Linked DNA regions of Homo sapiens: region 2 is linked to region 1. The links come from fine-mapping of genetic effects on gene expression. A gene starts in region 1. The other region holds a variant in brackets. All regions are shown on one strand. Distances are from middle to middle.

Region 1 (16,375 bases):
GATGAAGTTTTGCTATGTTGCCCAGGCTGGTCTTAAACTCCTGTACTCAAGCAATCCTCCTGCCTTGGCCTCTGAAAGTGTTGGGATTACAGGTGTGAGCCATCACCCCTGGCTGCCTATGCTTCTTTTTCTCCCTTAAGTTCCCCTGTTCAAGGCATACCTTAGAGGTATGGGCCAGAGAGGACTGGGTCAGAGAGCAGGGAGTGGCTGGGAAGGTAAGGGACAGTGATGGGCATTCCTGAGAGAACTGGGTGATGACAGGGGAATCTGAAAGGGGAGAAAGAAGCATCCAAGAGACAGTGAACATAGCTGGGGGAATTTTAAAGGTATGCATTAATTAGAGTTTATAATAGGCAGGGTGTGCTCTAGCCTAGCGGGCTCTGACCTCCTTCCTGTTCACCTTTGCCTTTGTCCAGGGAGAGTCCTGGCCCATGCCGACATCCCAGAGCTGGGCAGTGTGCACTTCGACGAAGACGAGTTCTGGACTGAGGGGACCTACCGTGGGGTGAACCTGCGCATCATTGCAGCCCATGAAGTGGGCCATGCTCTGGGGCTTGGGCACTCCCGATATTCCCAGGCCCTCATGGCCCCAGTCTACGAGGGCTACCGGCCCCACTTTAAGCTGCACCCAGATGATGTGGCAGGGATCCAGGCTCTCTATGGTCAGTCCCTCCCCCTAGTGAGGGGGAGGGTCAGTCTGACTCCCACGTCAAGGCTTGAAGAGACAGGTCTAGCCTCCATGTAGGGATATAGCTTAGTGTCTTTCTTCTCCTCCAGCCCAGTTACTCAGGCTTCTTCATTTTCAGGAGCAGTTTTTCTCAGACTCTTCTATGTCTAATCTTCCTTCCAGGCCTCTCTCCTTACACCCATGCTTGGGGATGGAGAATGCACCTTCTTTTTTTTTTTTTTTTTTTTTGAGATAGAGCCTCACTCTGTCACCCAGGCTGGAGTGCAATGGCATGATCTTGGCTCACTGCAACCTCCGCCTCCCGGGTTCAAGCCATTCTCCTGCCTCAGCCTCCCAAGTAGCTGGGATTACAGGCACACGCAACCACGCCCAGCTAATTGTTTTTGTATTTTAGTAGAGATGGGGTTTCACCATGTTGCCCAGGCTGGTCTTAAATTCCTGAGCTCAGGCAATCCACCCGCCTCAGCCTCCCAAAGTCCTAGGATTATAGGCGTGAGCCACCACACCCGGCAAGAATGCACATTTTAACAATCCTCCTTCTCCCTTTCTGGTGTCTCTCAAACCTAGAACGTGTCTCCCGCTGATATCAACATAATATTGCCTACCACAAATGAAAACGCTCTAGGATTCCCTTTTCCCCTCTGTATGGGGACTCTGAGCAAAACTTACAGGAGACTGGTGTGGAGGACAGGTGCTGTGAGTTCTCTCCCTAAGCAGCATTACTTTACCTTATAGGCAAGAAGAGTCCAGTGATAAGGGATGAGGAAGAAGAAGAGACAGAGCTGCCCACTGTGCCCCCAGTGCCCACAGAACCCAGTCCCATGCCAGACCCTTGCAGTAGTGAACTGGATGCCATGATGCTGGGTGAGGCCCCTCCCCTCCAGGCTGTTGGCAGGCGGTGGGGGCAGCCTGCTGATCCTGAGGCCTGGACAAATGGGAGTGACATGGGACTTCAGCATGAGCAATGGAGGTTAGACCCCAGGCATTAATGACCATGGAAGGAGACATGTGACATGGGGAGGGAGAGTTCGGAGCCAAATTAAAGGTGGCTTAGGCAGGCACTTACCAAGGCTGCCACGCTCTAAGGGCCACTAGAACACATCTGGAAATGCAGCAAGATGGAGAAAACTATATTACCCAGATTGCCTGTTAGAGAGGGTGCACCTGGTTGGAAGGACAACTAGGAAGCCACTTGGAGGGGAGGGTGAGGTTCCTAAGGAGGAATAGCTATCTGCAGGGCTTTTGTTTTGTTGAGTGGACCAAAGCTGAAACGCTCTGAGCAACAAAGCATTCTGAGTCCTCTTTGTCTGCCTTTAATTTTCTCTTTGAATTAAAGTTGAATGAATTTTTGAAGAATCAGCCTGCAGGGAGAGGGCAAATTGTTAGTCAGCCTGAGATACCCCCAAGTTTCTGTCTACTTGACCTCTGTCTTTTTGACTTGTTGACACACCATTACGCTCAGGGCCCCGTGGGAAGACCTATGCTTTCAAGGGGGACTATGTGTGGACTGTATCAGATTCAGGACCGGGCCCCTTGTTCCGAGTGTCTGCCCTTTGGGAGGGGCTCCCCGGAAACCTGGATGCTGCTGTCTACTCGCCTCGAACACAATGGATTCACTTCTTTAAGGGTAAGGAGGCTAGTTACAGTGTCTTACTTGAGGAGGGCCTAATCTTAAAGAAACTATAAAAGGGAGGGAGATGAGAAGTTTCTGAATAGGTGGACCGGAGGAGACCAAAAGCTATCACCTGAGGACAGAGGTGACTTGTTCTTTCCTCACATGCTCTCAGGAGACAAGGTGTGGCGCTACATTAATTTCAAGATGTCTCCTGGCTTCCCCAAGAAGCTGAATAGGGTAGAACCTAACCTGGATGCAGCTCTCTATTGGCCTCTCAACCAAAAGGTGTTCCTCTTTAAGGTATAAAGTTCAAAGCAAGGGCAAATCCCTTCTTAGGAGGAGTGGGCTACCTTATACTGAGAAGCAAAGCTTGCGCTTGAAGGGAGATGTTCTGCAGCTGCAGTGGGCTGGGGGTGGACCCCTGGGGGTCCTAAGCTCTCTCCTCTTCCTCTCCCCTCTCCCCACCCATCCCATATCCAGGGCTCCGGGTACTGGCAGTGGGACGAGCTAGCCCGAACTGACTTCAGCAGCTACCCCAAACCAATCAAGGGTTTGTTTACGGGAGTGCCAAACCAGCCCTCGGCTGCTATGAGTTGGCAAGATGGCCGAGTCTACTTCTTCAAGGGCAAAGTCTACTGGCGCCTCAACCAGCAGCTTCGAGTAGAGAAAGGCTATCCCAGAAATATTTCCCACAACTGGATGCACTGTCGTCCCCGGACTATAGACACTACCCCATCAGGTGGGAATACCACTCCCTCAGGTACGGGCATAACCTTGGATACCACTCTCTCAGCCACAGAAACCACGTTTGAATACTGACTGCTCACCCACAGACACAATCTTGGACATTAACCCCTGAGGCTCCACCACCCACCCTTTCATTTCCCCCCCAGAAGCCTAAGGCCTAATAGCTGAATGAAATACCTGTCTGCTCAGTAGAACCTTGCAGGTGCTGTAGCAGGCGCAAGACCGTAGATCTCAGGCCTCTAACACTTCCAACTCCAGCCACCACTTTCCTGTGCATTTTCACTCCTGAGAAGTGCTCCCCTAACTCAGATCCCCTAACTTAGATTTGGCCCCCAACTCCATTTCCTGTCTGTCTTAGACAGCCCTTCCAACTGTGTCATCTCTTCTCTGGAGGTCAATGGTGGAGGGAGATGCCTGGGTCCTGTTCTTCCTACATAAAATGCAAGAAAACAGCATGGCCAGTAAACTGAGCAAGGGCCTTGGAATCCTTGAGAATCACATTTATGTGCTTATGATTACGGGCAAGCTAATTAACCTTGTTGAATCTCAGATTCCCCATTTGCAACATTAGGTTAAGACCAGTACTGCAGGATTGTTGCACTAAATGAAATACTGTATGTGAAGTGCCTGGCACAGTGTCTGGTACATTTGTGTTTAATAAAAGCTAACTCCATGTTCATAAGAGAGGACTGAACAGCTCTTCCTCTAGCTGTCTGGCTGTATAACTCTTACAGTAGTCTGTATAATAAGGGCATCTCTATTAGATCTTTAGGGGACAGAGGATTTGTCAAGATGGTTAGCTCTTTGTTTTGGGGTGCAGAGAAAGAAAAGAGCAGCAACAGCAGAGGCTGGACTCCCTGGTTCAGTATTTAATGCCATTTTATTCACATGCTCCCATGTTCTCCCTCCCTCCCATTGTAGCCTTGCTGCCCAGGGGAGGGATATGTCTTCCTTTATGCATCTGGGAAACCAGGAACAGACCCTGCGCAGGAGAGTCAGAGGGGGAAGAGTTAGAATGGGTCAGTGGCTGGAACAAAGTTCTGGTTAAGGAGGAAATTAGTGCCACCCACGGTGAGAAGCAGAGAAGGCACTTGCATCCTATGCAGCCCTGAAGACCAGGCTCCTTTGGGCAAAAGGCAAGACTCTGGCAGGTGGGTCAATGCTCTCTCCTTGGAGCAAGAAGCCAGCTTTTGGGGAAGGCAGGTCCTGAGGCAGGCACTGCCCTGTGGTCTTCCCCAGGTTGAGGAGAGAAGTGGAAGCCCCATGGAAGACAGTGCTCCCAGCTGAGGTAGGAGGCGGAGGTGGGGGTGGGGGTAGTTTAAGCCTATGGGGCCCAGGGGGAAAGGCCAAACAGAAACCCAACTACCCCCTAATGAAGGGCCTGGAGGTTGGGGTATCTTGGAGCTCCTCAGAGCCCTTCTTCCCATCAAAAAGGTATCAAATGCCTTGGAAGCTCCCTGATCCTACAAAACAAAAAAATGCTTATTTTTACCACTGTGAGGCAAGCTGAGGTGAACATTTAAAAGGCTATTTCAAGACGAGGTGCGGTGGCTATAATCCTAGCACTTTGGGAGGCTGAAGCAGGAGGATCACTTGAGCCCAGGAGTTCAAGACCAGCTTGGGCAACATAGGGAGACCCTGTCTCTGCAAAAAAATAAAAACGAATACATAAAAATTAGCTGTGTGTGGCGTCTGTGGTCCCAGCCACTCAGGAGGCTGAATGAGAGGCTCGCTTGGGCCGGGGAAATCAAAGTTGTCATGAGCTGTGGTCACGCCACGGCACTGGACAGAACAAGACCTTGTCTGAAAACAAACAAACAAACAAAAGCTATATGGGTAAGGCTTGGAGGGAATTCGGGAGTCAATTTCTTTGGGGACCAGGGCACCTCTATTATTGGTCAGAGGTAAATATTCATACTTCCCTTCCTCCCCCTTCCCCATAAGACTCTTCTCTGTTCTTGGAACATATCCCTACAAAGCTGGTCTGGGTTGAGGCACAGATCCTGTCCCCAAGTCCAAGAGGTGGGGAAGTTTGTGTGCAGGTCCTGTGGGCTCAAACCCTGCCCACCTAGTGTTCCCAGGCCCTCACAGGGGTAAGGGAAAAAGTGGAAGTCTAGGCTCAGGTCTGGTTAGAACCAGAGATTAAGGTGAGGGGTACAGTGGAACCACAGTCAGAATCCAGGTCCAGGACGGTGTGGGGGGCTGTGGTCTGGGGTCCTGGTCCCAGTTGGCACTCTTGAAGACTCTGGAAGTAACTCTGGAGGGACACAGGGCAGAGAGGGAGTAAGGAGGGGCCTGGGTCAGAGCCCCCCTCCCACCCTGACCATCCCCATATGTCCTCTGCTCCATCTGCCCAGGGTGTCCCCAAGTCCCCCACTCACTGGAGCGAGACTGTCAGCAGGGCTGCAGGTATTGGCAGGGAGCTGATGCCGACAGCTGCCCTCACAAAGCCCCACCCCAGAGGGGATCCAGTGCCATTTGGCCTTTTGCTGAAGGGTCTGAAGGAGTTGGAGATGGCTTTGCTGGTGGCTTAAGACCACTGCTGGCCGGGCGCGGTGGCTCACACTTGTAATCCCAGCACTTTGGGAGGCTGAGGTGGGTGGATCACTTGAGGTTGGGAGTTCAAGACCAGCCTGGCTAACATGGTGAAACCCCATCTCTACTAAAGATACAAAAACTAGCCGGGCATGGTGATGCATATCTGTAATCCCAGCTACTCGGGAAGCTGAGGCATGAGAATCACTTGAATCCAGGAGGCGGAGGTTACAGTGAGCCAAGATCATGCCACTGTACTCCAGCATGGGTGACAGAGTGAGACTCCATCTCAAAAAAAAAAAAAAAAAAAAAGACCACTGCTTCGGAGGGGGCAATACAGACTCAAGAAGGCCTCTTTAGGCCCTGAATCCTACCCTATACACACTCACATTCTAAAGAAACCCATTTGACCTTCCTGTTGTTTCTCTCAAGCCTCATCTTCCCCCCCCATTTATTCCTCTTTTTTTTTTTTTGAGATGGAGTCTCGCTCTGTCGCCCAGACTGGAGTGCAGTGGCGCGATCTTGGCTCACTGCAAGCTCCACCTCCCGGGTTCAAGCCATTCTCCTGCCTCAGCCTCCCCAGTAGCTGGGACTACAGGCGCCTGCCAACAGGCCCAGCTAGTTTTTTTTTTTTTTTGTATTTTTAGTAGAGATAGGGTTTCACCGTGTTAGTCAGAATGGTCTCGATCTCCTGATCTCGTGATCCGCCCGCCTTGGCCTCCCAAAGTGCTGGGATTATAGGCGTGAGCCACCGTGCCCAGCACCCCCCCGACAATTCATTCTAAAAGAAATTCTTCGAAATTCTATTTTTCCTCCTAGACTTCCCTGAGATCCTCCTTTCCTTCTGTAACTCTTTCCTGCTTCCCCTGACTCCTTCAACTTTTTTTTTCAGTGCCCTGCCCCATTCACCTTGGACATCCTCCCCCACTCTCCTTCCTCAAGTGTATTTCTCCCCTTCCCTCCTTAAGTCTAGGAACTGGGGACATGAGTAGGCACAGGTTGGCTGCTTCTGTACCACAGCACTAACTCACCATTAGCGTGGCCTCCATGTTCCTCAGGCACGAGCTTCCACTGGGCCAGGGCTCCAAGGGCCCCCAAGGCTGGCCAGATCCCCAGTAAGACCCAGCTATATCAGCAGAGAGAAGGCAAGGCTGGAAGTGTCTGCAGGCGTTGGCCCAGCCAACTCCCCAGTGCCAGCCCCTCCAGGAAGTAGTCAACACAGGCCACAAGCACTGCAGAACCCAGCAGGGTTGTGCCCAGAACTGTGAATGGACGTGGCCACCGAAGTGTGAGCAGGGCTCCCAGCAGCGCCAGCCCCACCAGCCCCCCAGCTGGCACCCAGGCTGAAGGTGGTTGGTAGATAGGCTCAGAAGCCAGCAGGGCTCCGGCACCCAAGGTCAGGCCTAGCAGGAGACCCGTCAATAAGAGCCCAACACAGTGAACCAACATGGTGACCACGCCGCAGAGGAGTCATGATGACCACGGCGATGCCCACTCTCATTTCCAGGCTCAGCTGTGTCTCCAGCACCCGCACCTTGTGGCACAGTAGGAAGCTCACCAGCGCTCCTGACAGCTGACCGGAGAGAAACGTCACTGTCTTGAAGCAGCAGTAGCCTGGGAAGTGAGGCAGGAGGAATTGAGAGGCAGGAAGGGGGCTCTACAGGGATGACTCTGATGAATTCCAAGGGAGAGGAATGGCTCACTAGAGGAGCAGAAGACAGGAGCAGCACGTCAAGGGACCTCAAGGCCAGGGGCAGAAAGGGGTCGCTTAGGGTCGGGGGGGGGCACTGTTTCAGGAACTGTGAGGGAATGGGAGGGAAAATCAAGAGGTAAGATGGATACATTGAGGGGAGTAAGGATAGAAAGAAGGTCTAGTCCTTTTAGGGATAGCAGATAGGAAAAAATCAGCACAAGCTGATTCAGGTTTTTGGAGAAGAGTGAAGAAGTCTGAAATATAGTGAATAATTTAGGAATGGGGTTTTCAGGTAGGAGTTAAGAGAAGAGCAAATGATAGATGCCAGAGGTGAAAGCTGGAAGGCATGGGCATGGAGGATGGACAAGAAGCTGGCAAGAGCAACATGGGCCTAGGAATACAGCCAGAGCAACATGGGCCACACTAGAGGTAGGAACCCCTGGCAGAGGAGGTGAGATGGCCCAGGAGCAAGGAGGAAAGCTGGCATCATCCTTGAGGATGACAGTCTTGGGCAATGGCCCCCCAGGTCCTTGGCCCTGCCCTCACTGAAGCAGCAGTAGATGATTCCAAAGCAGCAGCAAAGGGCACACACCAGGGCAAGTGCCAGTTCAGGATTGTCCTGGGGTTCCAAAACACATCTTGGGTCTGGAGGCTCTGGGAGTTGTTGATTAAAGGGCCTGGGGTCAGATGTCACAGCCAGGGGCAGCAAGACTTCCTCCATGGCCAAAGAGAAAGTGGTCACAGAGCGGGAGGTGTCAGCTCCTCTCACCCATCCATGAATGTCTTTAGGGGATTGGGAAACCTGCAGCGGGGCACGGGGCAGAAACTCAGGTGCCCATAAATCTTGAGGACTCTGTACCTCTATTTCTTTTAAATAATGGTGCCCATTTCAGGAGCCAGTATGACCCTGTTGAGGTAACTGAAGAAATCTACAGGATTGGATTGAGAGGAGCAGGATCTGTCTTTACCACTCTCTGAAACAAGTACACTTAAGTAAAATGTAAAATGAAATCTTATAAAGTAATGAAAATCTTATAAAGTAATGAGCCTTTGCCTCCCCCCACCACCCTGCAGCTCTTCAGGGTGAGGGTGGAAAGAACAGGAAGCCCTGGGTGTGTGGAGGGAGGGGTGCTGGGACATTATTGCCCCATCTGCGACTGGGACTTAATACTACCCCACTGGATTGGGAAGGGTGAGGTTAATAGAGAGGGGAGAGGGAGGGAGAACAGGAGAGTATGAGTCATGGTGGGGGTCTCTGGACAGCTGCTCCAGGCCCAGGGCAGAAAGAGGGAAAAAACCAGACACCAAGAGTTTGGGAGGAGGAATTAAGTAGAGACAGTCACCCACAGTTTGTCAGGGTTTTAAAGCCTCAGCTTCATGCTGAGATGGAGTTGTTGGAGGAAGAGGCATCCAGCCACAGTCCTAATCCCACAGCCCCTCATGGAATAAGCAGGGACTTTGCCCACAGACATCTCACATCCTGGTAGCCACTCGCACCTCCCCTTAGGATATTGGTGGGACTTTTCCTACCTCACCCTTCCCCCAGCGGTATCAGGGCTGCCAATGGGATTTGAATTCAAATCCTGAAAGGAGAACACCAAGGAGGAGCTGGCATTTCGGGCACTGTGGGAATGAAGTGGCAAAAATGCAGGCACATTACTTTCTTCAGCTGTCCTTTGGATATCAAGGTCCTTACAGGCTGGAGGGTTGACTCTCGGAGCTCCTCTCCTCAATCTGCTTGGAAGTCTGGGGACCCTGGACAAGCGGGGGTTGGGGAGGGGATGTTAACTACTCACCATCCTGCCAGGATTGAGGAGAGGAGGGGGTGGAAGTGCTTCCCTAGACCTCCAGATGCATCCCTGCTCGGAGGTCCTAGACGCCGGGGGTGCGGCTGTCGGTCAAGAGCACCCCCAGGGTCACTCTGTTGCTGCCTAAACTCTTTCAAGTCGCAGCCCAGGCTCTGTGAGCTAAATGCAACTAGCTTGCAGGGTGGAGAAAGGGGACAGGGCGTGTGTGTTGGGGTGTGTGTTTGTGTTTGTGTGTGTGCGCGCGCGCGTGCGCGCGGTGGGGGGAGGAGGGGTGACATCACAAGGCAGGCCCCTCCAATTCTTTCCCGTGTGTGTGGGGGGACCCAGGTTGCCTACTGCTCTAGTCCAGGACCAGAGACCCCCAACTATATAGCAGGTAAGAGTCTTGAGGGTCACCCCAAGAGTTTTGGAGAAGGGTCTCCGAATACTTAGGAGATGACAACCGGAAGCTCTCAAAGCCCCAATAGGGGTCCCAGCGCCCCCCTAGCTTCAGCTTGGTTTCTTCCACTTTCCAGAGAATTGGAGTATTGTCTCCTGGAGAACCGGGTGGTCGGGATCGTGGACCAGGGAAGGGGCTTTTGCTGGTCGGGGAGCGCCAACTGGGGGTTCATGGGTGGAAAAACTTTCGGATCAAGACGGGGTATAAGGCTAGAGGCGTGTGCAGAGGAGGGGACCGACGGAACGGGGACCCAACTGGGTCTACGTGGGGGCGGGGGCGCTTGTGGACGTCCACCAAATAGCTTGGTATGCAGATGAGATGTCAAGCAGCAGGTAGATGAGTTCAGTGTTCTTTGGCTCACGGGCAAAGTTCTGAGCCGAGCCAAGTTACGCTCCCAGTTCCTAGGCACCGCTCGGTGATCGGGCCTGGGGAGCTGCGACCCGAGGGGCGGATCCAGGTATAAGGGGCAGCTCGCCAGCTGGGTCAAGCGCGGGGGAGGCCGTGGGTTGCTGTGAAAGGAGGGGCAGTGCTGCGGGGCGAGGGAGGGGGCCAGCCGGGGCACCCTCTCCTCTGCTCCACCTCCGCACCGCAGGATACAAAGGGGCCTGTGTCCTCGCAGCTGCCGGCACGGAAGGGATCAGGGCAGTGACTCTTCTGAGCTCCCTGGTTTTGTCTGCAAGGGAAAAAGACTATATGTGGCTCGGTGGCTGCCCTCCATCTCCCAGGAATACAAAGCCTAGGAATACACCCAGAGCAATCCTGAGAGTCTGCCCTTAGTCTGCAGGCATTGGTGCAGAGTCCACCTGCCTTGCTTCCTGCGGTGCAACCTGCGGGAATCCCATTCCCACACGCGGAGGGAGGGGCCTTTAAATGGCGGGGCCAGTACTTCCTTAGGACCGCCTCCTTGGAGTCGACGCAGCCCTAGCTGGATTGGCTTGCCTCTCAGCCAACCGCTATTTCTTTTCCTTCCCGTCTCTTCCCTGGTGACCCCGGAAGTGGAAGTAGGCCCAGGTCGCCGGCGGCCGCGGGGACGGAAGGCGGAAGCAGAGCGTGAGCGGGAGGCGGAGCCGGGAGAGCGGCTCTCGTAGCTCACCCTGGCCCCAGGCCGGGCGGCTCGAGGGGGAGGAGTTACCGCCGTTCTTCGGTACGTCCGTCTTTTTTTTTTTTTTCGTTTTTTTTTGTTTTTTTGAGATGGAGTCTCGCTCTGTCACCCAGACTGGAGTACAGTGGCACGATCTCGGTTCACTGCAACCTCCACCTCCCGGGTTCAAGCGATTCTTCTGCCTCAGCCTCCCGAGTAGCTGGGACTACAGGTGCGCGCCACCACGCCTGGCGAATTTCTGTATTTTTAGTAGAGACGGAGTTTCACCATGTTGGCCAGGCTGGTCTCGAACTCCTGACCTCGTGATCCGCCGGCCTCGGCCTCCCAAAGTGCTGGGATTACAGGCGTGAGCCACGGTGCCCGGCCACCTTCGTCCCTTCTACACAGCCGGTGGGTTCCCTGTTAGTCTTTCTTAGGGGCAGCCCTAAGCTCCGCCCCCAGATTTTCCTCCAGGGCCGCATGGCCCCCACCCATTACTGGAAGTCTGTGGCCCCCTTTCCGGCGGTCTTTCCCATTTTCCTAAGAGTGACCCACCCTCCCCCGACCACACCCTTTACGGTACCTCCCTGTTTCCCTGATTGAAGGTTATAGTTTTCTGGGGAAAGAAGAAAAACTTAAGTGATTTGGAGGAGAGGGGAGGGAGCAAGCAGGGTTGTGGTGAGTCTAGTTTTGGCTTATTGCTAGGAATAGCGAATGCCCCAAAAGAACTTGGGAAAACAAGGGAGGTGGATGAATTAAATGTGTCCACTATTTGAGATTGTTTAATTCCTCTCTTGGTCTCATCCTTGACTGTCTCCACCTTGATATCTGTTACAGGCATCAGAACACACCATGATGGCTGTGACCTAAGACCCTCAGGAAGCCCCGGGGTCATGGCCCAGAAGCACCCCGGAGAAAGAGGGTTGTATGGAGCCCACCACAGTGGTGGTGCCTCCCTCAGGACTTTAGGACCCTCCGTGGACCCTGAAATACCTTCATTCTCAGGACTCAGGGACTCAGCAGGGACTGCTCCTAATGGTACCCGCTGCCTCACAGAGCACTCTGGTCCTAAGCACACACAGCACCCAAACCCAGCCCATTGGTTGGACCCAAGCCATGGCCCCCCAGGGGGTCCAGGACCACCTAGAGATGCAGAGGACCCTGATCAGAGTGAGACGTCTTCAGAAGAAGAATCAGGAGTGGACCAGGAACTCTCAAAAGAAAACGAGACTGGGAACCAGAAGGATGGGAACTCTTTTCTTTCCATTCCATCTGCTTGCAACTGCCAGGGAACACCTGGAATTCCAGAAGGGCCTTACTCTGAGGGAGGAAATGGTTCTTCTAGCAACTTTTGCCACCACTGTACCTCTCCAGCTTTGGGGGAAGATGAGTTGGAAGAGGAATATGATGATGAAGAATCTCTCAAGTTCCCCAGTGATTTTTCACGTGTGTCCAGCGGAAAGAAACCCCCATCCCGGAGACAGCGGCACCGCTTTCCAACGAAGGAGGATACTCGGGAGGGTGGACGTAGGGATCCCAGGTCCCCTGGTCGACATCGGCTGGGTCGGAAACGAAGTCAGGCAGATAAGCGCAAAGGCCTGGGATTGTGGGGAGCCGAGGAACTATGTCAACTTGGACAGGCAGGCTTTTGGTGGCTGATTGAACTGCTGGTATTGGTGGGAGAGTACGTAGAAACTTGTGGCCATCTCATCTATGCCTGCAGGCAACTGAAAAGCAGTGATTTGGACCTTTTTCGAGTTTGGATGGGAGTGTGGACAGGGCGGTTAGGGGGCTGGGCCCAGGTCATGTTTCAGTTTCTAAGCCAGGGGTTTTACTGTGGAGTAGGACTGTTTACTCGTTTTCTTAAGCTGCTGGGTGCTTTGCTGCTCCTGGCTCTGGCCCTCTTTTTGGGCTTTCTACAGTTGGGATGGCGGTTTCTGGTGGGACTAGGTGACCGGTTAGGCTGGAGGGATAAGGCTACCTGGCTCTTCTCTTGGCTGGATTCTCCAGCCTTGCAGCGTTGCTTGACTCTGCTGAGAGATAGCAGGCCATGGCAGCGGCTGGTAAGAATAGTTCAGTGGGGCTGGCTGGAGTTGCCTTGGGTCAAGCAGAATATTAATAGGCAGGGGAATGCACCTGTAGCTAGTGGGCGCTACTGCCAGCCTGAAGAGGAAGTGGCTCGACTCTTGACCATGGCTGGGGTTCCTGAGGATGAGCTAAACCCTTTCCATGTACTGGGGGTTGAGGCCACAGCATCAGATGTTGAACTGAAGAAGGCCTATAGACAGCTGGCAGTGATGGTGAGTACCCTTCTGTTTCCTGTTTCTCTCTTTTGTTCCCATATTTTTTTTTTTTTTTTTTGAGATGTAGTCTCGCTCTGTCACCCAGGCTGGAGTGCAGTGGCACAATCTCAGCTCACTACAACCTCCGCCTCCTGGGTTCAAGCGATTCTCCTGCCTCAGCCTCCTGAGTAGCTGGGATTACAGGTGCGCGCCACCATGCCCGGCTAATTTTTTTTGTATTTTTAGTAGAGATGGGGTTTCACCATGTTGGTCATGCTGGTCTCGAACTCCTGACTTCATGATTCACCCACCTCAGCCTCCCAAAGTGCTGTGATTACAGGTGTGAGCCACTGGTCCCAGCCTGTTCCTATATTTTCTATTCCAGTTTTAGGGAGAGTGGAATAAAGGGAAGGCAGAGTAGAAAGTTAACGGGTAGGTGAAGGTTAACGTTCTTCTTTTTTTTTTTTTCTTGAGACGGAGTCACGCTCTATCGCCCAGGCTGGAGTGCAGTGGCGTGATCTTGGCTCACGCAAACTCCGCCTCCCGGGTTCACGCCATTCTCCTGCCTCAGCCTCCCGAGTAGCTGGGACTACAGGCGCCTGCCACTGTGCCTGGCTAATTTTTGTATTTTTAGTAGAAACGGGGTTTCACCGTGTTAGCCAGGATGGTCTCGATCTCCTGACCTCATGATCCGCTCGCCTCAGTCTCCCAAAGTGCTGGGATTACAGGCAGGAGCCACTGTGCCCAGCTGGTTAACATAGTCTTAGGAAAGAGTCATAAAGACTTTTTGGGCCAGGTGCAGTGGCTCACACCTGTGATCCCAGCACTTTGGGAGGCCAGGCTTGGTGGCACATGCCTGTAGTCCCAGCTACTCGGGAGGCTGAGGTGGGAGGATCAGTTGAGCCCAGGAGGTCGAGGCTGCAACAAGCTGCGATCATGAACCTACAGTCTGGGCAACCAAGCCACACCATCTCAAAAAAAAAAAAAAAAAAAAAAAAGATATTTTCCCCTCCACTATGGGATCTGATCTTCCCTCCATTTTGTTTGTCACGAGATATATTCTTTGAACCTGGTATATTGGGCAGTGTAGAACTCACTCACCTGGAAAATCTAGGTGAAGTCCCTCTAACTGGAGTGGGAAAAAGACCTATTCAGAGAGCACCTCAGTTGCTCTTACCTGAACAAATGAGGGTTTTCTTTTTTTTTTAAACATGGGGTAACCCAACTATTTCTCCCAGAGAAGCAAATATGGACCTAGTATGGGAGGGTCAGGGAGTGCATGTAAGGATTTTAGCACCAGGTAGGAGAAAACAGGCTGTTTCAAGATCAGCAACTCAGAATAGGAGAGGGCAAGAAAATGGAGGTGTATGCATATGTATGTCATACATGAAAATATGGTTGCTTTTATTGATAAGAGGGTGTGCAGGGCCAGGCGCGGTGGCTTACGCCTGTAATCCCAGCACTTTGGGAGGGTGAGGTGGGCAGATCACAAGGTCAGGAGATCGAGACCATCCTGGCTAACATGGTGAAACCCTGTCTCTACTAAAAATACAAAAAAATTAGCCGGGTGTGGTGGCGGGCGCCTGTAGTCCCAGCTACTCGGGAGGCTGAGGCAGGAGAATGGTGTAAACCTGGGAGGCAGAGCTTGCAGTGAGCCGAGATCGCGCCACTGTACTCCAGCCTGGGCGACAGAACAAGACACCGTCTCAAAAAAAAAAAAAAAAAAAGAGGGTGTGCAGATGGGAGTTGTCATGCACCTTATGCTTGAGGGAAATGGTTTAATACAAGCATGCAATCAAATTGCATTAGAAGTAGATATTAGGTTGATATTAGATAACAGATTGTTACTGCTATTTCTGTACAAATAAAACTATTATGAATATAAGTAAGGTGTGTAAATTGGAGGCCTACTTACACTGGAGTGTATGGAGCTGGACTGGTAAAACATCACAGTGTGCAAATTACCTCAATGGCTGCATGACACCAAAGAGGAATGGGCAACTAAAGTTTCCATTAATGATTAAAGGTACAGTAAACCACCACACCTGTAACTTACCAAAGGACTGAATTAATTTGGTGGGAAATGTATGCCCCTTAGTAGGTAGCTTGGTATATTCTTTTTTTTTTTTTTTTTTTTTTGAGACAGGGTCTCACTCCAGTTCCCCAGGCTGGAGTACAGTGGCAGGATCTCAGCTCACTGCAGCCTTGATCCCCCAGGCTTAGGTGGCTTCCACCTCAGCTTCCTGAGTAGCTGGAACTACAGGCGTGCATCACCACACCTGGCTAATTTTTTGTATTTTTAGTAGAAATGGGGTTTTGTTATGTTGGCTAGCCTGATCTCGAACTCCTGGACTCAAGCAATTTGCCTGCCTCGGCCTCCCAGAGTGCTGGGATTACAGGCGTGAGCCACTGCGCTTGGCTTCTGCTGTATTCTTAGAGTGGGTAACAATTGTTTACTCTCATTGTTACTAATTCTACTAGTAGTAGAGCTCTTTTCTCACTTTCTTTTAGTAGACATCCTGTTTTGGAGAATATTATTCTTAACAAAAATTCTCATTTTTCAATTTCTCTTGAAGTAGAGATGTAGTTAAGTTCCCCTAACCTCAAAACATCTATCCCTATACCCCAAAGATCTCTCTCTGTCCTGGACCAGAGTGTCTCTGGGCTTTTATTGAACCTCTCACTGCCTTACTAAGCCCTAGTGTGAACATGACTAAAAGGCTGTTCAATTAGCTTGGGAATGTGGGAAATTTGACAGCATTTTAGTTATTTGGCATCAGTCAGGAGACTAGCTTTATCTCTGCATTTTTGGGGAATGGGGATGGGTACAATCAGGAAGCTGTAGGAAGAGAGGATATTACTTGTCTTGGAGAGAAGGCTGAAAAGTACATAAAGTCTCTGAGACCATGATATGCTATTTCATTTCTGGGACTGAAAGGCATATCACTGTAGGAAGTTTTGGATATGAGAATTTTCTAGTTAAAAAAGAGTTTCAAGATGTAACATCTTTGGAACTCTTATTTTATGACTGATACATGTGTGTGCCAGAGACCAACTGTCCCTGTTCATCTGGGATTGAGGAGTTTCTAGAGGCATGGGACTTTTTAGTGCTAAAACTGGGACAGTCTCAGGCAAACTGGAATGATGAATCCACCGTAGTACCTGATTCTTTGCTACATACTTCATATATATTCTTATTTAATCCTCCCAACAATCCATGATAGATATTCAGGCTGACATGATAGATAATCCCAACAATCCATGATAGATATTCATGATGGCACACGCCTGTAATCCCAGCACTTTGGGAGGCTGAGGTAGGCAGATCTCTTGAGGTCAGGAGTTCGAGACCAGACTGGCCAACTAGATGAAACCCCGTCTCCACTAAAAATACAAAATTAGCTGAGTGTGGTGGTGCATGCCTGTAATCCCACCTACTAGAGAGGCTGAGGCAGGAGAATTGCTAGAACCTGGGAGGTGGAGGTTA
Region 2 (16,375 bases), 240 kb after region 1:
CCCAGAGGTGGAGTCTACAGAGGCAGGCAGGCCTCCTTGAGCTATGGTGGGCTCCACCCAGTTCGAGCTTCCCAGCCGCTTTGTTTACCTACTCAAGCCTCAGCAATGGTGGGCGCCCCTCCCCCAGCCTTGCTGCCACCTTGCAGTTTGATCTCAGACTGCTGTGCTAGCAACAAGCGAGGCTCTGTGAGCATAGGACCCTCTGAGCCAGGTACGGGATATAATCTCCTGGTGTGCCATTTGCTAAGACTGTTGGAAAAGTGCAGTATTAGGGTGGGAGCGACCCAGTTTTCCAGGTGCTGTCTATCATCCCTTTCTTTGACTAGGAAAGGTAATTCCCTGACCCCTTGCACTTCCTGGGTGAGATGATGCCTCGCCCTGCTCACGCTCAGTGTGCTGGACCCACTGTCCTGCACCCACTGTCCGACACTCCCCAGTGAGATGAACCCGGTACCTCAGTTGGAAATGCAGATCACCCATCTTCTGCATTGCTCATGCTGGGAGCTGTAGACTGGAGCTGTTCCTATTTGGCCATCTTGGCCCCACAATCCTTTTTTTTTTTTTTTTGACAGAGTCTCTCTCTGTTTTCCAGCATAGAGTGCAGTGGCACAATCTCAGCTCACTGTAACCTCCATCTTCTGGGCTCAAATGAACTCTCCACTTCACCTTCCAGAGTAGCTAGGACTATAGGTCCCAGTGACCCCACTATTTTTTTTTTGTAGAGATGCCACAGTGCCCCCAGTATTTATTTTTTATTTTTATTTTTTGTAGAGATGAGGTCCCACTATATTCCCCAGGCTATTCTCAAACTCCTGGGCTCAAGTAATCCTCCTGCCTTGGCCTCCCATAGTGCTGGGATTCAGGCATAAGCCACACACCCAGATGGTAATAACCATTTCAACAGGAGTGAGGTGATAGCTCATGTGGTTTTGATTTGCATTTTTCTGATGATTAGTGATGTTGAACATTTTTTTTTCATATACCTGTTGTCATTTGTATGTCTTCCTTTGAGAAATTTCTGTTTAGGTCCTTTGCCTGTTTTTAAATTAGGTTATTTGTTTTCTTGCTACTGAGTTGTTTGAGTTCCTTATGTATTTTGGATATTAATCTCCTGTGAGATAAATAGTTTGCAAATATTTTCTCCCATTCTATAGATTGCCTCCTCACTCTGTTGATTGTTTCCTTCACTGTGTAGAAGGTTTTAAATTCGATGTAATTAATTTGTCTATATTTTTATATTTGTTGCTTATTCTTTTGTTGTTATATCCAATAAGTCATTACCCAGACCAATGTTATGAAGATTCCCCCCTTCGTTTTCTTCTAGAAGTTTTATAGTTTTGGGTCTTACATTTAGGTCTTCCATCCATTTTGAGTTGATTTTTGTAGGGAGAGAGGTGGGAGTCTAGTTTCATTCTTCTATATATGGACATCCAGTTTCCCCAGCACCATTTCTTGAAGAGACTGTCCTTTCCCCAAGACTGTCTTGGTGCCTTTGTCAAAATCAGTTGGCTATAGATATGTGTATTAATATCTGTGTTATCTATTCTATTCAATTGGTCTATGTGTCTGTTTTCATGCCGGTACCATGCTGTTTTTGTTACTACAGCTTTGTAGTATATTTTGAAGCCTGGTAATGTGATGCCTTTAGCTTTGTTCTTTTTGTCCAGGAGTGCTTTGCCTATTGGAAGTCTTTTGAGGTTCTATACACATTTTAAGATTTTTTTTTCTATTTCTGTGAAGAATGTCATTGGTGTTTTGATATGGATTGCATTGAATCTGTAGATTGCTTTAGGATTATGGTCATTTTAACAATATTAATTCTTCTGACCTACAAGCATGTGATATCTTTTCCATTTGTTTGTATCCTCTTTAGTTTCTTTCATCAGTGTTTTGTAGTTTTCCTTGCAGACGTCTTTCACTTCCTTCATTAAATTTATTCCTTGCTATTTTATTTTTAATAGCTATTGTAAATGGGATTGCCTTATTTATTTTTTCAGCTAGTTAGTTGTTCATGTATAGAAATGCTACTGATTTTTGCATGCTGATTTTGTATCCTACGACTTTACTTTTCAGTTCTAAGAGTTTTTAGGTTGAGTCTTTAGGATTTTTTATATATAAACAGAGACAACTTGATTTCCTCCTTTCCAATTTGAATGCCTTTCATTTCTTTCTCCTGCCTAATTACTTTGACTAGGACTTCAATTATGTGGAATGAGTGGTGAGTGTGTACTCCCTTGTCTGGTTTCAGTTCTTAGAAGAAAAGCTTTCAGTATAATGTTAGCTTCAGTATGTTAGACATTAGATTCAGTATAATGGGTTTAGTCATATAAGGCCTTTATTCTGTTGAGGTACTTTCTTTCCATACTTAATTTTTTGAGAGTTTTTATCATGAAGGGATATTGAATTTTATCAGGTATCTTTTCTTCATCTATTGAGATGATCATATGGTTTTTGTCCTCCATTCTGTTTTATATGATGAATCACATTTATTGATTTGCCTATGTTGGAACATCATTGCATTCCTGGGATACATCCCACTTAGTCATGGTGTATTATGGTTTTTTTTTTAGAATGTTATGAAATTTTTAATTTTTTAAATGTTTTTAAGAGTAAACTACTTGATAATTTTTTTTGTAATTTTTATTTTTTTTATTTTTTATTTTTTATTTTTTATTTCTTTTTATTATTACACTTTAAGTTTTAGGGTACATGTGCACATTGTGCAGGTTAGGTACATATGTATACATATGTGTCATGCTGGTGCACTGCACCCACTAACTCGTCATCTAGCATTAGGTATATCTCCCAATGCTATCCCTCCCCCCTCCCCCGACCCCACAACAGTCCCCAGAGTGTGATGTTCCCCTTCCTGTGTCCATGTGATCTCATTGTTCAATTCCCACCTATGAGTGAGAATATGCGGTGTTTGGTTTTGTGTTCTTGTGGTAGTTTACTGAGAACGATGATTTCCAATTTCATCCATGTCCCTACAAAGGACATGAACTCATCATTTTTTTATGGCTGCATAGTATTCCATGGTGTATATGTGCCACATTTTCTTAATCCAGCCTATCATTGTTGGACATTTGGGTTGGTTCCAAGTCTTTGCTATTGTGAATAATGCCGCAATAAACATATGTGTGTATGTGTCTTTATAGCAGCATGATTTATAGTCCTTTGGGTATATACCCAGTAATGGGATGGCTGGGTCAAATGGTATATCTAGTTCTAGATCCCTGAGGAATCGCCAGACTGACTTCCACAATGGTTGAACTAGTTTACAGTCCCACCAACAGTGTAAAAGTGTTCCTATTTCTCCACATCCTCTCCAGCACCTGTTGTTTCTTGACTTTTTCATGATCGCCATTCTAACTGGTGTGAGATGGTATCTCATTGTGGTTTTGATTTGCATTTCTCTGATGGCCAGTCATGATGAACATTTTTTCATGTGTCTTTTGGCTGCATAAATGTCTTCTTTTGAGAAGTGTCTGTTCATGTCCTTCGCCCACTTTTTGATGGGGTTGTTTGTTTTTTTCTTGTAAATTTGTTTGAGTTCATTGTAGATTCTGGTTATTAGCCCTTTGTCAGATGAGTAGGTTGCGAAAATTTTCTCCCATTTTGTAGGTTGCCTGTTCACTCTGATGGTAGTTTCTTTTGCTGTGCAGAAGCTCTTTAGTTTAATTAGATCCCATTTGTCAATTTTGGCTTTTGTTGCCATTGCTTTTGGTGTTTTAGATATGAAGTCCTTGCCCATGCCTATGTCCTGAATGGTAATGCCTAGGTTTTCTTCTAGGGTTTTTATGGTTTTAGGTCTAATGTTTAAGTCTTTAATCCATCTTGAATTAATTTTTGTATAAGGTGTAAGGAAGGGATCCAGTTTCAGCTTTCTCCATATGGCTAGCCAGTTTTCCCAGCACCATTTATTAAATAGGGAATCCTTTCCCCATTGCTTGGTTTTCTCAGGTTTGTCAAAGATCAGATAGTTGTAGATATGTGGCGTTATTTCTGAGGGCTCTGTTCTGTTCCATTGATCTATATCTCTGTTTTGGTACCAGTACCATGCTGTTTTCGTTCCCGTAGCCTTGTAGTATAGTTTGAAGTCAGGTAGTGTGATGCCTCCAGCTTTGTTCTTTTGGCTTAGGATTGACTTGGCGATGCGGGCTCTTTTTTGGTTCCATATGAACTTTAAAGTAGTTTTTTCCAATTCTGTGAAGAAAGTCATTGGTAGCTTGATGGGGATGGCATTGAATCTGTAAATTACCTTGGGCAGTATGGCCATTTTCACAATATTGATTCTTCCTATCCATGAGCATGGAATGTTCTTCCATTTGTTTGTATCCTCTTTTATTTCCTTGAGCAGTGGATTGTAGTTCTCCTTGAAGAGGTCCTTCACATCCCTTGTAAGTTGGATTTCTAAGGTATTTTATTTTCTTTGAAGCAATTGTGAATGGGAGTTCACTCATGATTTGGCTCTCTGTTTGTCTGTTGTTGGTGTATAAGAATGCTTGTGATTTTTGTACATTGATTTTGTATCCTGAGACTTTGCTAAGTTGCTTATCAGCTTAAGGAGATTTTGGGCTGAGACAATGGGGTTTTCTAGATATACAATCATGTCATCTGCAAACAGGGACAATTTGACTTCCTCTTTTCCTAATTGAATACCCTTTATTTCCTTCTCCTGCCTAATTGCCCTGGCCAGAACTTCCAACACTATGTTGAATAGGAGTGGTGACAGAGGTCATCCCTGTCTTGTGTGAGTTTTCAAAGGGACTGCTTCCAGTTTTTGCCCATTCAGTATGATATTGGCTGTGGGTTTGTCATAGATAGCTCTTATTATTTTGAGATACATCCCATCAATACCTAATTTATTGAGAGTTTTTAGCATGAAGGGTTGTTGAATTTTGTTGAAGGCCTTTTCTGCATCTATTGAGATAATCATGTGGTTTTTGTCTTTGGCTCTGTTTATATGCTGGATTGCATTTATTGATTTGTGTATATTGAGCCAGCCTTGCATCCCAGGGATGAAGCTCACTTGATCATGGTGGATAAGCTTTTTGATGTGCTGCTGGATTTGGTGTGCCAGTATTTTATTGAGGATTTTTGCATCAATGTTCATCAAGGATATTTGTCTAAAATTCCCTTTTTTGCTTGTGTCTCTGCCCGGCTTTTGTATTAGAATGATGCTGGCCTCATAAAATGAGTTAGGGAGGATTCCCTCTTTTTCTGTTGATTGGAATAGTTTCAGAAGGAATGGTACCAGCTCCTCCTTGTACCTCTGGTAGAATTCGACTGTGAATCCATCTGGTCCTGGACTCTTTTGGTTGGTAAGCTATTGATTATTGCCATAATTTCAGATCCTGTTATTGGTCTATTCAGAGATTCAACTTCTTCCTGGTTTAGTCTTGGGAGAGTGTATGCGTCAAGGAATTTATCCATTTCTTCTAGATTTTCTAGTTTATTTGCGTAGAGGTGTTTGTAGTATTCTCTGATGGTAGTTTGTATTTCTGTGGGATCTGTGGTGATATCCCCTTTATCATTTTTTATTGCATCTATTTGATTCTTCTCTCTTTTTTTCTTTATTAGTCTTGCTAGTGGTCTATCTATTTTGTTGATCCTTTCAAAAAACCAGCTCCTGGATTCATTAATTTTTTGAAGGGTTTTTTGTGTCTCTATTTCCTTCAGTTCTGCTCTGATTTTAGTTATTTCTTGCCTTCTGCTAGCTTTTGAATGTGTTTGCTCTTGCTTTTCTAGTTCTTTTAGTTGTGATGTTAGTGTGTCAATTTTGGATCTTTCCTGCTTTCTCTTGTGGGCATTTAGTGGTGCTATAAATTTCCCTCTACACACTGCTTTGAATGCGTCCCAGAGATTCTGGTATGTTGTGTCTTTGTTCTCGTTGGTTTCAAAGAACATCTTTATTTCTGCCTTCATTGCATTATGTGCCCAGTAGTCATTCAGGAGCAGGTTGTTCAGTCTCCATGTAGTTGAGCAGTTTTGAGTGAGATTCTTAATCCTGAGTTCTAGTTTGATTGCACTGTGGTCTGAGAGATAGTTTGTAATAATTTGTGTTCTTTTACATTTGCTGAGGAGAGCTTTACTTCCAAGTATGTGGTCAATTTTGGAATAGGTGTGGTGTGGTGCTGAATAAAATGTATATTCTGTTGATTTGGGGTGGAGAGTTCTGTAGATGTCTATTATGTCTGCTTGGTGCAGAGCTGAGTTCAATTCCTGGGTATCCTTGTTGACTTTCTGTCTCGTTGATCTGTCTAATGTTGACTGTGGGGTGTTAAAGTCTCCCATTATTAATATGTTGGAGTCTAAGTCTCTTTGTAGGTCACTCAGGACTTGCTTTATGAATCTTGGTGCTCCTGTATTGGGTGCATATATATTTAGGATAGTTAGCTCTTCTTGTTGAATTGATCTGTTTACCATTATGTAATGGCCTTCTTTGTCTCTTTTGATCTTTGTTGGTTGAAAGTCTGTTTTATCAGAGACTAGGATTGCAACCCCTGCCTTTTTTTGTTTTCCATTTGCTTGTAGATCTTCCTCCATCCCTTTATTTTGAGCCTCTGTGTGTCTCTGCACGTGAGATGGGTTTCCTGAATAGAGCACACTGATGGGTCTTGACTCTTTATCCAATTTGCCAGTCTGTGTCTTTTAATTGGAACATTTAGTCCATTTACACTTAAAGTTAACATTGTTATGTGTGAATTTGATCCTGTCATTATGATGTTAGCTGGTTATTTTGCTCATTAGTTGATGCAGTTTCTTCCTAGTCTTGATGGTCTTTACATTTTGGCATGATTTTGCAGCAGCTGGTACCGGTTGTTCCTTTCCATGTTTAACACTTCCTTCAGGAGCTCTTTTAGGGCAGGCCTGGTGGTGACAAAATCTCTCAGCATTTGCTTGTCTGTAAAGTATTTTATTTCTCCTTCACTTATGAAGCTTAGTTTAGCTGGATATGAAATTCTGGGTTGAAAATTCTTTTCTTTAAGAATGTTGAATATTGG[C/T]CCCCACTCTCTCTGGCTTGTAGAGTTTCTGCCAAGAGATCTGCTGTTAGTCTGATGGGTTTCCCTTTGAGGGTAACCTGACCTTTCTCTCTGCCCTTAACATTTTTTCCTTCATTTCAACTTTGGTGAATCTGACAGTTATGTCTTGGAGTTGCTCTTCTGGAGGAGTATCTTGGTGGCATTCTCTGTATTTCCTGAATCTGAACATTGGCCTGCCTTGCTAGATTGGGGAAGTTCTCCTGGATAATATCCTGCAGAGTGTTTTCAACTTGGTTCCTTTCTCCCCATCACTTTCAGGTACACCAGTCAGACATAGATTTGGTCTTTTCACATAGTCCCATATTTCTTGGAGGCTTTGCTCATTTCTTTTTATTCTTTTTTCTCTAAACTTCCCTTCTTGCTTCATTTCATTCATTTCATCTTCCATTGCTGATACCCTTTCTTCCAGTTGATCGCATCGGCTCCTGAGGCTTCTGCATTCTTCATGTAGTTCTCGAGCCTTGGTTTTCAGCTCCATCAGCTCCTTTAAGAACTTCTCTGTATTGGTTATTCTAGTTATACATTCTTCTAAATGTTTTTCAAAGTTTTCAACTTCTTTGCCTTTGGTTTGAATGTCCTCCCATAGCTCAGAGTAATTTGATCGTCTGAAGCCTTCTTCTCTCAGCTCGTCAAAGTCATTCTCCATCCAGCTTTGTTCCATTGCTGGTGAGGAACTGCGTTCCTTTGGAGGAGGAGAGGCACTCTGCTTTTTAGAGTTTCCAGTTTTTCTGTTCTGTTTTTTCCCTATCTTTGTGGTTTTATCTACTTTTGATCTTTGATGATGGTGATGTACAGATGGGTTTTTGGTGTGGATGTCCTTTCTGTTTGTTAGTTTTCCTTCTAACAGACAGGACCCTCAGCTGCAGGTCTGTTGGAGTACCCTGCTGTGTGAGGTGTCAGTGTGCCCCTGCTGGGGGGTGCCTCCCTGTTAGGCTGCTCGGGGGTCAGGGGTCAGGGACCCACTTGAGGAGGCAGTCTGCCTGTTTTCAGATCTCCGGCTGCGTGCTGGGAGAACCACTGCTCTCTTCAAAGCTGTCAGACAGGGACATTTAAGTCTGCAGAGGTTACTGCTGTCTTTTTGTTTGTCTGTGCCCTGCCCCCAGAGGTGGGGCCTACAGAGGCAGGCAGGCCTCCTTGAGCTGTGGTGGGCTCCACCCAGTTCGAGCTTCCTGGCTGCTTTGTTTACCTAAGCTCGCCTGGGCAATGGTGGGCGCCCCTCCCCCAGCCTCACTGCCATCTTGCAGTTTGATCTCAGACTGCTGTGCTAGCAATCAACGAGACTCCGTGGGCGTAGGACCCTCAGAGCCAGGTGCCAGATATAATCTCGTGGTGCGCTGTTTTTTAAGCCCGTCGGAAAAGCGCAGTATTCGGGTGGGAGTGACCCAATTTTCCAGGTGCCATCTGTCACCCCTTTCTTTGACTAGGAAAGGGAACTCCCTGACCCCTTGCACTTCCGGAGTGAGGCAATGCCTGGCCCTGCTTCAGCTCGCGCATGGTGCATGCACCCACTGACCTGCGCCCACTGTCTGGCACTCCCTAGTGAGATGAACCTGGTACCTCAGATGGAAATGCAGAAATCACCCATCTTCTGCGTTGCTCATGCTGGGAGCTGTAGACCGGAGCTGTTCCTATTCGGCCATCTTGGCTCCTCCCTATGTTTTTGATATATTGTTTGATTTTGTTTGCTAGTATTTTGTTGAGGATTTTTGTGTGTATGTTCATCAGGAATATTGGCCCATGGTTTTTTTTTTTCTGTGTTCTTTTCTGGTTTTGGAATCAGGGCCTCAGGGAATAAGTTGGGAAAAGTTCTCTCTGCATCAACATTTTGGAATAGTTTGAGAATAGCTGATATTAATTTTTCTTTAAATGTTTGGTAGAATTCAGTTTTGAAGGCATCTAGTTCTGGACTTTTCTTTGTTGGGAGACTTTTTATTATTACTGATTCAATCTTGTTACTTGTTCATGTCTGTTCAGGTTTTCGGTTTCCTCTAGGCTCCATCTCAGTAGGTTGTATGTGTTGAGGGATTTATCCATTTACTTTTGATTTTTGAATTCATTAGCATATAGTTGTTCATTGCAGTCTCTAATGACCCTTTATATTACTGTGTTTCTCTTGTGAGGGCTCCTTTTTCATTTCTGATTTTACTTATTTGTGTTTTCTCTTAATTTTTCTGTCCAGCTAAAGGTTTGTGAATTTTATCTTTTCAAAAAACCAACTTTTTGTTTTGTTGATCTTCTGTATTTTTTTAGTCTCAATTTTATTTATTTCTGCTTTGATCTTTATTAATTCTTTTTTTAGAACACATTTTATTTTTATTTATTTATTTATTTTCCACTCAATGGGTTATTGGTGGTACAAGAGGTATTTGGTTACATGAGTAAGTTCTTTAGTGGTGATGTGTGAGATTTTGGTGCACCTATCACCTGGGCGATAACACGAGACCCTTTTTGTAATCTTCAACCCTTGCCCCCTTCCCAACCTCCTCCCCAAGTCCCCAAAGTCCACTGTATCATTCTTATGCCTTTGTATCTTCATAGCTTAGCTCCCACATATCAGTGAGAACATACGATGTTTGGTTTTCCATTCCTGAGTTACTTCACTTAGAATAATAGTCTCCAGTCTCATCCAGGTCGCTGCAAATGCCATTAATTCATTCCTTTTTATGGCTGAGTGGTATTTCATCATATATTTCATCATATATATATGTATATATATATATACACAACAGTTTCTTTATCCACTTGTTGACTGATGGGCATTTCGGTTGGTTCCACAATTTTGCAATTGTGAATTGTGCTGCTATAAACATGCATGTGAAAGTATCTTTTCATATAATGGCTTCCTTTCCTCTGGGTAGATAACCAGTAGTGGGATTACAGAATCAAATGGTAGTTCTACTTTTAGTTCTTTAGGTAGTCTCCACACTGTTTTCCATAGTGGCTGTACTAGTTTATATTCCCACCAGCAGTGTAGAAGTGTTCCCTGATTACCACATCTATGCCAAAATCTACTGTTTTTTGATTTTTTGATTATGGCCATGCTTGCAGGAGTAAGGTGGAATCACATTGTGGTTTTGATTCACATTTCGCTGATCATTAGTGATGTTGAGCATTTTTTCATACGTTTGTTGGCCATTTGTATATCTTCTTTTGAGAATTGTCTATTCACATCCTTAACTTACTTTTTGATGGGATTGTTTGCTTTTTTTTCTTACTGATTTGTTTGAGTTTGTTGTAGATTCTGGATATTAGTCCTTGTCAGATATATAGATTGTGAAGATTTTCTCCCACTCTGTGGATTGTCTGCTTACTCTGCTGACTGTTCTTTTTGCCATGCAAAAGCTCTTTAGTTTAATTAGACCCCAACTATTTATCTTTGTTTTTATTGCATTTTTTTGGGGTTCTTGGTCAGGAAATCCTTGCCTAAGCCAAAGTCTAGAACGGTTTCTCCAATGTTATATTCTGGAATTTTTATAGTTTCAGGTCTTAGGTTTAAGTCCTTAATCCATCTTGGTTGATTTTTGTATAAGGTGAGAGATGAGGATCCAGTTTCATTCTCCTACATGTGGCTAGCCATATATCCCAGCACCATTTTTTGAAAATGATGTCCTTTCCCCACTTTATATGTTTTTGTTTACTTTGTTGAAGATCAGTTGGCTTTAAGTATTTGGGCTTATTTCTGGATTCTCTATGCTGTTCCACTGGTCTATGTCCCTATTTTTTTTTTTTTTTTAACCAGTACCACACTGTTTTGTTGACTGTGGCCCTATTGTATAGTTTGAAATCAGATAGTGTGATGCCTCCAGATTTGTTCTTTTTGCTTAATCTTGATTTGGCTACATGAGCTCTTTTTGGTTCCATATGCATTTTATAATTGTTTTTTTTTTCTAATTCTGTGAAGAATGATGGTGGTATTTTGATGGGGATTGCATTGAATTTGTAGATTGCTTTTGGCATTATGGTCATTTTCACAATATTGATTCTACCCATCCATGAGCATGGGATGTGTTTCTATTTGTGTCATCTATGATTTCTTTCAGCAGTGTTTTGTAGTTTTCCTTGTAGAGGTCTTTTGCCTCCTAGGTTAGGTATATTCCTAAGTATTTTATATTTTTTGCAGCTATTGTAAAAGGGGTTGAGTTCTTGATTCGTTTCTCTGCTTGGTCCCTGTGGTGTATAGAAAAGCTACTGATTTGCATACATTAATCTTGTATCTAGAAACTTTGCTGAATTCTTTTATTAGTCCTAGGAGCTTTCTGGAGGAGTCTTTAGGGATTTTGAGGTAAACAATTATATCGTCAGCAAACAGTGACAATTTGACTTCCTCTTGACCAATTTGGATGCCCTTTATTTCTTTCTCTTGTCTGATTGCTCTGGCTAGGACTTATAGTACTATGGTGAAGAGGAATGGTGAGACTAGGCATCCTTGTCTTGTTCCCGTTCTCAGAGGGAATGCTTTCAACTTTTCCCATTCACTATTATGTTGGCTGTGGGTTTGTCATAGATGGCTTTTATTACATTGAGGTATCTTCCTTGTATGCCAATTTTGCTGAGAGTTTTAATCATAAAGCGATGCAGGATTTTGTTGAATGTTTTTCCTGCATCTATTGAAATGATCATGTGATTTTTGTTTTTAATTCTGTTTATGTGGTATGTCACACTTATTGACTTGTGTATGTTAAACCATCCCTGCATCCCTGGTATGAAATCCACTTGATCACGGTGGATTATCTTTTTGATATGCTGTTGGATTCAGTTAGCTAGTATTTTGTTAAAGATTGCTGCATCTGTGTTATATTCTTTTGCTGAATTGATCCCTTTATTATTGTATAATGACCTCCTTTGTCTCTTTTTACAGTTGTTGGCTTAGAGTATATTTTATCTGATGTAAGTATAGCTGCTGCTCTGGTTTCCATTTGAATGGAATATCTTTTTCCATCTCTTCACTTTCAGTCTGTAGTGTCCTTAAGGATGAATTGAGTTTGTTGTAGGCAGCATACAGTTGGATGCTGTTTTTCTTATTTCATTCAGACCTCTATGTCTTTTAACTGGAGACATTAGTTCATTACATTCAAAGTTATTATTGTTAGGTAAGGACTTAGCACTGTCATTTTGCAATGATATGTTTTTTTGAGAAGTCTAGTGTGTCCTGGGCATAATGTTAAATAAAATACCTTTATTATATTTATGTATAAAGCTAGACAATATAACTTGTTTTCTTAATGTTCATTACACCATATGACTCCTAAAGAGGGAGATAGTTAGGGCATTTACCTTCTGTTGCTGTGATGGTCTCACACATTGGTCAAGAAATGTGAGAGATGGAGTGTGGTTTAGTATTTCCTCCCAGAAACTCCTTTTCTCTTTCAGTCTTTTGTACCCTGATAACTGTCCTCTGATGAGAGGTAGGAGGTCTTGTTCTTCCTCTATTTCTTCTAAGGCTTGAGAACTGCTCTTCCACTTGTTCCTGGCACTCTGGCTCAAACTTCTCCAAGTTTACCCACTTGCGATCTCTAAATGTTTACATGGAAATGATAAGTGTCATGTGACTCCTAATAGCTGCTAAATATGACTCTCCCTGACAAAAGGAATTTCAGATTGGAAGGAGTAGAGGGACATGGTCTTGGAAGGATCAGTGTTTGGCTTTGACCTAGAGTCCTATACACAGGATTAATTCTCAGCTATGTTTGGTGAGAGGAATGTTTGTATTTGAGGTTGATCCTAGATGATGTCTGTGATTAACTTGTGAACAATCTCTCTCCTCCGATCACAGTTTGGCTTTAGACAGAGAGTCTTAATAGATGAGTGTGCCAAGTATGGATTTTTGAGCAGCCAATGTGATAGAGAATTATAGCATACAGATTTCTTTAGGAAAGAGAAACATGGTCCTGAGAAATTACTGGAGAGCAATAACATATACACCAGGACAATAAGAGTTTAGAGAAAAGGCAACAAAGAGGGAGTAACAACAGAACAGTATAATTTACAGAAGGGATTGATTCAATCTAGTCTACAGCTTTGTGGGAACATGTGTTTGTGGGTAATTCTTGAGTCAGGAGGAAGACAAAGATATAACTTTATAGTACATAAGATAGCTCATTGTTTATTTTCTCTTCCAGCCCACACCACATATTGAGAAAACTAGAAGAGAATGAACTTGGCCAGAGGAGAATGAAGTAAGTGTAGTCATGAGCCAAACAGAACCAATTATCTTCTCTCTTTTGGGAATTTGCAGTTAGTTATAGATTCTGTGTTGGTAAACTATGGGTCATCAAGGTAGAAGGTAATATATAATAAATATGTATACATTTAATTTTGATAATATTTTTTCTTGTTTAAAAGAAACATTGTGGGATAAAAATGATAGTAAATAAATCATCCAGTTTGCCCTTGGATGATAATGCTGAGCTGGCAGAAGAAATCCATATCCAAAAGGAAGGGCTGTTTCAGTGAAGACAATTGCTGCCCCACTATAATATAAGGGGCCCTTTGCAATTAACTAATTAGCAATTAACTAATTAACCAATTGCATATGAAAGTAGCAGGTGCCATGCAATAGGCTTGGCTTTGATTTCTGCTATTAGAAGATTGGACACAGCAATGACAGTAGCCAGATGAGTCTTGGTAAGGAAAGTCTCATGCATAATTCTACAGTCCTTCTTTAATGTTTACTTTGTTTTTGAGCTCATTGAACAAGCATTAAAGTGGTGGAGAATAAGATTGGTTCTCATCCACAGAAAAAGTCAGCTTGTCTACCAACTTTTTAATAGATGTATGTATATGTCTGTTTGTTGAAGAAGACTTATGGTGAGTACTCATATTCATGTGGAATACAAGTATTCTCAACTCTAGTCACATTATGAGAGGTATATCTATGTTCTTCTACTGCAGTCATCCTGGAGTAGGTTAACCAATCCTCCATTTTTTAAATTCTAAATCCCTGATAACACAGATAAACCATTATTCTGCAATCATAAAATGGCATACATCTATACCTCTTTTTCTTGAATGACAAAACGTGTGGCTTATCAAGATGTGAAAGACTGTTTCCTGAATTGAGATTGTGATACCGATAATCTTATATCATGGATGTATCCCAGAAAAAATAAAGCATCTTGGAGCATTGGGCACCATGTCGGGATCCAGTCAAATGCAGAAATGGAGTAGAAGTAAGGAAAAATATAGAATAACATGGGAGAACCTAGAACTTTGGCCAATAATAGGGTTGGAATGTCCTAAGTTCCATTTTTGTTGGGTATTAATTGTGTATTATGGTGAAGAGTAGAGCTTAGTTTAAAATCACAGAACTAAAATCCGGGAAGGAATAATCAGGAATCTTTTGATTTCACATGACAGCAACCCAAGCCAAACTATCTTAAGTGAAGACAGAAATTTATAATTCACATAATGTATAAGTCCAGCAGTAACTGGTTTCAGGTGTTACTAGATCTAGAATACAGGGACTCAAACATAGTTACTCTCTCCCCATTTTCTTCTTTTAAGGTTGGTGTTTTTCTTGAGACAGATTTTTTCACTTGGAAGACAGTAGACAGTCTCCAATATATAGTCCTTGAAATCTATGATCCAGAAAGCATGGCACCATCTCTCTTTTCTTTCAAGTCTAAATCAAAAAGGTCATAAGGTCCATCTTGGTTCATATGCTTAACTCTGACTCAATCTTTTAGCTAGGGGAATGTGGTATCATAATTGAATGGGCCAGTTTGTATGTTTATCAATGACGTCAAATAAGGAGAGATGAGTGGATTGACAGTTCCATCAGAAATCCAAGACTGGAGCAGGGTGAAATATTTATCAGAGAAAGGGAGATGCTAACACAAACAAAAATGACAGCTATTGATAAAAGGAAGTTAATTGAATCAGGCAAGAACTGCAGGGGAACATTACTTTGTGAGAAATTGCCAAAGCCAAAGGCCTTGAGAGGGAGAATATGTGTGGAATAAAGAGTGAGTGATATGGGCATAAGTGGGGAGGGGTAACAGTTTGTGCTGAATCAACTTTTGATGTACAAGCTTCTGTTATATAATAATGAGACCCTTTTCATATATAGGATCAGACCAGTCAGAGGCACTAAATATGCACAGTATGAACCTGGTACTAGGCAGTCTAGAGGTGGATGACCTAGGTGGGCACAGTTTTAGCCCATCAAATTTATGATGATGCTACATTGTGAGCATGTATATATTCTGGGAGTAATTAGATCTATGCTATCAGAGACTTCACATCCAAAAGGTCCAAAAAGATGCAGGAAGCTCCTATGAAGAAGAAATAACTTTATGCAAAGCTGTGAAAGTTCTAGAATTTCCCTGCATTTTCTCATGCAAAGAATTGTTCACCCACAGTTCAAGCCAATAAATATTTAAATAATTAATAAGCCAGTTATAATCTATATAATCTCTTCCTTTTGGGTATTTATTTGCAATTATTCTTGACAGTTTTAGAAAAGAAAGCAAAACAAGGAATTGCTGGTGTAGACACTGAATTTCCATGAATTTTAACTACTGTTGATACTCTTCCTATTTTTAAGTTCTTAGAAATTTTATTGAAATTGTGATAATTTTCCAAAATTGCAGGAAGAACTAAATGTTATGACAGTCTGAATTTTTACTAGTGATATTTTTATGATTTTCTATATTTTTGGGAAAGGACAAACATAACATTGGTGTGGGAACTTAACATGAAATAAAGTATTATGGCTAGTAGGATTAGATAGCTGCCTCACTGTCCAGCTCCATCCAGACAATACTTGAATTATGGTACAGGCCTAACATGCCTAGTATCTATGGCATGTCAAACTGGAGACAGTATTTTCCAAGAATATTATGTTCTGTGGAGTTTTCTTTGTCACAAAGGAGGCTATATCATAATATTTTGGAGGAAGTATATATGATTTCATCAAATGCTACACATTTGATGAAAATGGTCACCAAGATTCTTTATTGAGATATTTAAAGTAGAGAAATGTTGTCTCCTTGTGTGTTAAATAAAGTAAAATAAATTAGAGAAACGTACAAAGAAATTTTTATACTCTTGCCTTTACTCTACTCAGGATTGAGGTTACAATGTTTTTCATATTTGTCTTTTTCTAAATTAAAGGAACATAGCATAGCAGATATAGTTGGAATATCTTTCACTAACTGACTCACAGATAATCATAGTTCAGATCAGAGAGTAGTATAGATGATCAGCCTCTGTGGCTGTATGGGAACCTTGACAGCAGTGCTGGCGGCTGGCCCCCTGGCCATCCTGGCAGCCACAAGGGAAGTCAAGGCTGCCTCAAGCCTGTGGGGGCCTCTGGGACCCCAGCTGAG

What was found. PIP is the estimated chance that this variant, and not a neighbour inherited with it, causes the effect.
Region 2: its variant is fine-mapped to the expression of DNAJC14 in pancreas (GTEx, PIP above 0.99).

The regions. Positions count from the first base shown.
Region 1 is chr12:55,823,783-55,840,157 of GRCh38, reverse strand. It overlaps DNAJC14 (DnaJ heat shock protein family (Hsp40) member C14), which reads left to right and starts at 10,571. Exons shown (of 7, transcript NM_032364.6): 1 at 10,571-10,669; 2 at 11,444-12,906. The coding sequence starts at 11,500. It overlaps MMP19 (matrix metallopeptidase 19), which reads left to right. Exons shown (of 9, transcript NM_002429.6): 5 at 417-662; 6 at 1,424-1,552; 7 at 2,151-2,315; 8 at 2,476-2,603; 9 at 2,784-4,725. The coding sequence ends at 3,122. It also overlaps the pseudogene TMEM198B. RefSeq lists enhancers at 9,104-9,303, 9,258-9,995 and a silencer at 10,524-10,633.
Region 2 is chr12:55,582,262-55,598,636 of GRCh38, reverse strand. No RefSeq gene overlaps it. Among named protein-coding and RNA genes, the nearest start is that of OR2AP1, 18 kb to the right of the region's middle. RefSeq lists an enhancer at 7,822-8,382. The variant C/T (reference allele first, on the strand shown) is at 7,008.